Regions from separate parts of the Homo sapiens genome. Here region 1 is linked to region 2. The links come from fine-mapping of genetic effects on gene expression. A gene starts in region 2. The other region holds a variant in brackets. All regions are shown on one strand. Distances are from middle to middle.

The links. PIP is the estimated chance that this variant, and not a neighbour inherited with it, causes the effect.
Region 1: its variant is fine-mapped to the expression of RCHY1 in whole blood (TOPMed, PIP above 0.99).

What each region holds. Positions count from the first base shown.
Region 1 is chr4:75,480,980-75,483,904 of GRCh38, reverse strand. It overlaps RCHY1 (ring finger and CHY zinc finger domain containing 1), which reads left to right. Exons shown (of 9, transcript NM_015436.4): 9 at 1,239-2,925. The coding sequence ends at 1,367. Among named protein-coding and RNA genes, the nearest start is that of RCHY1, 32 kb to the left of the region's middle. The variant G/A (reference allele first, on the strand shown) is at 1,696.
Region 2 is chr4:75,512,560-75,515,484 of GRCh38, reverse strand. RCHY1 (ring finger and CHY zinc finger domain containing 1) reads left to right here and starts at 1,082. Exons shown (of 9, transcript NM_015436.4): 1 at 1,082-1,288. The coding sequence starts at 1,199. THAP6 (THAP domain containing 6) reads right to left here and starts at 1,012. Exons shown (of 5, transcript NM_144721.6): 1 at 965-1,012; 2 at 1-52. The coding sequence starts at 32. RefSeq lists enhancers at 317-536, 112-1,042, 877-1,356, 1,043-1,973.

The sequences.
Region 1 (2,925 bases), 32 kb after region 2:
TGGTATTGAGTTTTAGATTAGAATGGGAAAGCCTAGTATTCTGGCTAGATAATTTTTGGTTATATTACACATTTTCTGAACATCTTCAGATACTTCAGCATACGAGGATAAAAACCACGTAGCAAAGCCAAATGAAAATTATTTTTTGTTTTATTTACACTGGAGTGTTTCATAATTCATGTGGATAATTGTTAGGGCAATGAAAAATCACTTTTGGAATACTAACCGATAATCATGTGATTGACTAGAGGCCGAAGTGTGCTATGTTCCATGTAGATAATTTTTGGAAATAATGGCTTCATTAAGATACAATTCACATATTATATAGTTCATTCATTTAAATTGTACAATTTGGTGCTTTTTAAAATATTCATGTAGTTATGCAAACATCACCACAATTTTAGAACATTTTTATCATCCCAAAAAGGAAACACTCATACCCATTAGCAGTCATTCCCTAACGCCCCAGGCCTAGGCAACCACTAATCCACTTTCTCCATTTAGATCATATTTTTTAAATAATTATTTTCCAAATTATAATTTAGAGCAAATTTGGAAATTTTCTGCTTATTATAGTGTGACTATTCAAAAACTAGTGCTTTTCTTGCATAGTAATGTATTGATTTTCAGGTTAACACCTTTGTTATTTTTCAGGTTCTTACTTAGCACTAGAAGAAATTAATTCTTAAACGGCATCTTATTGTTATTGTAGGGATGAGCGAAGAGCCTCTCTGTTTACTCAATTTTAGGAACACTCTTTTTGGAATTTAATTCATTCCTAAGGCAGAGAAGACAGGGAACAGTATACTAAACCTAAAAAATAAGCAAAAATATTATTTGTGTAAAAATTTTGGTTTTATTAATTGAGATACATTTCTGACTGAAAAATAATGAAATCATGTTGTTATTTTGAATTATAAGTATCAGGTATTCATCTGATTATGCCTAGGTTAATTTTCTTGCTTGTACTATTTATACTATTTAATATTTGGAAACTATTTTAAAATAAGCTTTTTTTTTGCTCAAATCTGCCTTTTCATTTTCTGAATTCAGAGCCACCTTAATAGCTTTTTAGAGTTTTCAGTGAAAAAATAAGAAGAAATTTCTACTTTTGGAAATTTTTAGACTTATGTATGTATTTTCACATCTTTAATATGATTTTCAAGGGATTATGAGTAGACAATGCTACTTGTATTTATAAGGTTTAAAATACTTAATTTGAATTAATCTCTTTTCAGATTCTCTGCAATGACTGTAATGGACGATCCACTGTTCAGTTTCATATATTAGGCATGAAATGTAAGATTTGTGAATCCTATAATACTGCTCAAGCTGGAGGACGTAGAATTTCACTGGATCAGCAATGACGAGCCTACACAGTACTGGAGAACTTGGCATTTTCTGATATAGAAAAAGGCTTTCCTTGGTATCGTGTTATCATGTGTCGTCATCTATGCATTAGAGTTGATGTGTTTTGTACTAGTGTCACAGCATAAAATCATATTACAAGTACGTAAGGATTCAGGGTCTCTTGATAGACTTATCATAGCTCTATATTGAATGAAAGCCACTGTGCTTGTGTTTTGATTGGAAATTCCTTTAGTGTCAGTTTTTTGGAAGCCAATGATGTTTGCCACTGATACATTCATAGAAGTGTATTATATTTTCATGAAGCTTTGCTTTAAGTGACACTAC[G/A]CGTGCAGTTCATTTCTAGTTCTTGATAGAACTGCACTTAATTTTCAGTAGTAGTCTTGACTTTTTAAGGGCTGTGTTATATTAAGTTCTCCCTTACTGTTAAAACCTAATTAAATATGCTTTAGAATTTTCTAAGACAGTCCTCTGGATCCTCTAAATGTGAATTTTGATGTAATAACTGCTAATAAAATTATATTGAAACTGTTTTATAGAAAGTTTTTTCCAAAGTTTTCTATGTTTGGCTCAATTAGGGCAGTATCATCAGTTCTATAATGTAAAAGAAATTTTCTTTCTTTTGAGGTATTCCATAAAAGTAGTTGGGAAAATTATTATGTAAAATAATAAGACTCTTCCAAAGCCTTAATAAAAACATCAACATTGAAAACAGTTTTTTTTAGGTTGCCCAAAATTATTTCTTCAAAGAGTCATTCATTCCTTCATTTAGCAAGTATTTATTGAGCAACTGCTATGTGGCAGATATGTTTCTAGATGCTGTAGAGACAACAGTGAACAATAAAGATAAAAGTCCTTGTCCTCACAGCAGTACATTCTATTGTTCATCATATTTGATCAATGTACTCATTTTTCTTTATGCAAGGAGTGGATGTCTTATTGTAAATGAATAGAATATTTCTTCCCTAAGCGTGTGAAAATAGGGGATGGATGAGTGGGAAGGGCATGGGATATTCCTGGCAAGATCTCTGATTTCATAATACTTTTTTGGGCTCATGTAGTGGAATTAAATATACCTCTTACTTCAGGAACAAAGTTAACAAATATGTTTGATGATCCAGCCGACTTTGACACTGTTATCTCCGTAATAGCTTTACCATTAGGCTAGGATGTAAAATGTACATTTATCAGTTGATAAGTACCTATTGAGCACCAGTTGTATTTCCAACTTTGAGCTATTTGAATCTTCTTTGAATAAGGAAGTTAGCCTTTTAACTAGAAAGCCTAAGAGTTCTGGCACATTTATTTCTTCTTTTGTTGAAATTTATTCACCTAGATAAAGGCAGCAGTTTGGGACTCAGATCTTTATTTTATCCCACCTTCTTGTCTTCTGTATTCCACTCTTCTTATGTTCTTTCCCTTCATCTGTTTCCTTGGCCTGGCCAGAGCAGCAGTGCTGATCTTCATTTGGGAAAGGATGTTCCTGGGTATTACCAATTAGTATACAGATAAGTAAAGACTAGTTTTCCAGATCTAATACTTTTTTTTGAAGTGGTT
Region 2 (2,925 bases):
GCACATCCAATGGCGGAGCAGCATTTCACCATTTTAGCAACTCATAACAAAACTGAAAGAAAATTAGAATGTTAAGAGTTAGTAACCGGAAAGCTGAAGGGGAATATTTTCCCTTTCCCGGTGTTTTAGGAAACACAAAATCAGGATAGAAAGCTAAAGACAAATATCTTCTTCTAACACCTGCAGCTTTGCTTACATCATTTTCCAGGGCCTTGACTCTTTAATAAGGAGAAACATATTTAGCTGTGTACCCCGAGTATGATTTCAATTTTGTTGGCTTGTACATTTTCCTTCCACCTTCTAACAGGTACCATGTTCTTTGTGCCACAAAGCCTTTTGCACACTAACTCCTACCCATCTTTCAGCCCTCGGCTTGCATCGCTTCCCCAGGGAAGCCTTCCCTCACTGACACTCAGATTGTCAGAGCTGCTCTAATATTAGCTCTCACAGGACACACACTTCTTCCTAGCACTTCTCCAGGTTGTAATCTTACATTTATTGCAGTGATTGCTCTTATTAATGTCTTCCTCCTCCACCAGTCTTGTTAGTTCCATGAGGTCATGGTGGAGTGTGTCTATTTTTCCTTACTTTTTGTCCTCACGGTTTAGCTGGTGACTGGCAATAGTGAATGTCAGTACATATTTTGAAAGAACAGCAAGTAAACGGGAAAGGGAGGAAGCAAGAAGCACTTCGAGGTGCCAGCGAGCACCCTGGCGTCCAAGAGCAGCGCGCGGGACCCGCTGAGCCCAGGGCCCGGGCCGAGCTCCGCCCCTTTCTCCAGGCTCCCCGCCACCGGAGGGAGAGAGGGAGGACCCGTCACAGGTAACGATGCGCCCAGTGAGCGTCCTTTCCTCTGGGGCCAACCAGCGTCTCCGCGCCGCTGCCGCCAACCTCGCGCCGAACTACGCCCTGAGATTTGGGCGGGTAGCGATTGGGGGAAAACAGGCAACCTAAGAGTTATTACCGTTAGCAGCGAAGACTGCGACTAACGTCAACGACGGAGACTGCGTCTGCCTTCGCTTCCGCCTCGTAGCCCCGGGAACCGGAAATCCGTCTGCCCCGGGTCACGTGCTTAGGAGCCATATTGTCGCTAGTGGCCGCTGGGGCTGGGAGGGGTGTGCTAGAGAGGCGCAGCTTCTCTGGGCGTGGTTTTTATCCTGGGGGAAGGATCGGTGGAATGTGAGGGGAGGTGGAGGAGATGGCGGCGACGGCCCGGGAAGATGGCGCCAGCGGTCAAGAGCGAGGTCAGCGGGGCTGCGAGCACTATGACAGAGGATGTCTCCTAAAGGTGACGCCTTCTATGGACTCTTCCCTGACAAGCTTCCGTCAGGTTGGGCTGGGGCGGGCTGGGCAGGTGGTTAGGCTTGGATTTAAGTTTGAGGTTAACCTGATTTTCAGGATACCTTTTCCACCTGGAACTGGGTTCTTCTTGAGGAGAACGTTTTTGGCAAGGCGATAAGCCCCACCTTTCCTACCTGCTTCGTACCTTTAAAGCAAAACCCTTCTTGGGAAGTGATTAGGCTTGCACAGTGGTCTCTGCCAGTGGGCTTATTCGTCTTTTGCTGCCGAAGTAGACTGAGGCAGCCCCGGGCCTGTACTGGGGTTTTCCGTTCAGGTGTGTGATGAAATAATGGAAGTGGAGATAATGGAAATAAGCAAGTGGAGAACCCGAATACGATTTCAGCTCCTGTGGTAAAGTTTTATAGCCTGCCAGCTTCATGTTAAAGGCAGTGCACATGTTCAGACGTAGGAGAAAACGTGTGTCCCAAAAAAGAAGACAATCATGTAATTGCCATTAAATAGGAAATTATGCATAGGAAAGTGCCTAATAAGCATGTATTGTTACTCTGAGAAAACTTCTTAATCTGTATTTTTTTTTAAATTGGCACGTATTCAATTGAAGTTTCCTGATTTTCCTTGCAAGAAACAGTACAAAAATTTTGCTTAGAAAACTTGAGCTTTGGAACCTCAACCGCCCTATCCCCAAATCTTAGCTCTCCTCTTTAATAACTGATTTTAGCTAGCTCCTCTCTACCCCGTATGTAAAATGGAGATGATCGCGCCTGTTTCATAAAAGTGTATGAGGATTATATACTAAAGGGCGTGTATAGTGTTTAACAGGGCGCATTCCCTGAAGTAAATGAGTAGTAAATATATACCACCATGACTGTTACTATCATCGTCAATCTGAGTATTATTATTTTTTGTTCTTTCACTTCACAAGTCAGCCTTGCTGGTCACTGCCTCATTATTAGAAGCAAGTTCAAGTCTCAGGCCTGTACGTGCATCCTAAACTCTTTTCTATAGGTCATGGCTTGACGAACATTGCTCCACTGAACTGGATGAAGCTCCTTAAAAATGTTGGTCATCCACCAAGTGTTGTGTAAGGAAATTGAATGCTATCCTTATGATTCAATTTCTACTGAGATGTATTATTATTCTTTCAAACTTGAGGTCTAAAACGGAATTTAACATCTTGGTGCCCCCCATAAACCACACAATTAGATCTGTGTATCATAGCACTAAGATACTTCGCCCTAGGTGTCAAACAGTTTTTGCCTTCCCCCGCCCCCCCCCCCCCCTTAAATACCAGAGGCCAAGTGAAGTATTTCAAGGAGGATGTGGTCAGCTGGGTCAAATGCAGCTGTTTGAGTAAGATAACTGAGAATTGCCCTTTGGATTTGGCAAGGAAGAGGTCACTGGTGATCTTGACAAGAGGAGTTTTAGTGGAGAGATCAGGATTAGAGTGAATTTAGGAAAGAATGGGAGGAGTGGAATTGAAAATAGCACTTATAGGGTATTCTTGGGGTTTAGCTGTAAAGGGGAGCAAAAAAAAGATGTGGTTGCTGGGAGATCTGGCACCATATTTTTTCCTCTTTAAGAGAGGAAGTATTACAGCATGTTTGTATATTCTAGGAAATGATA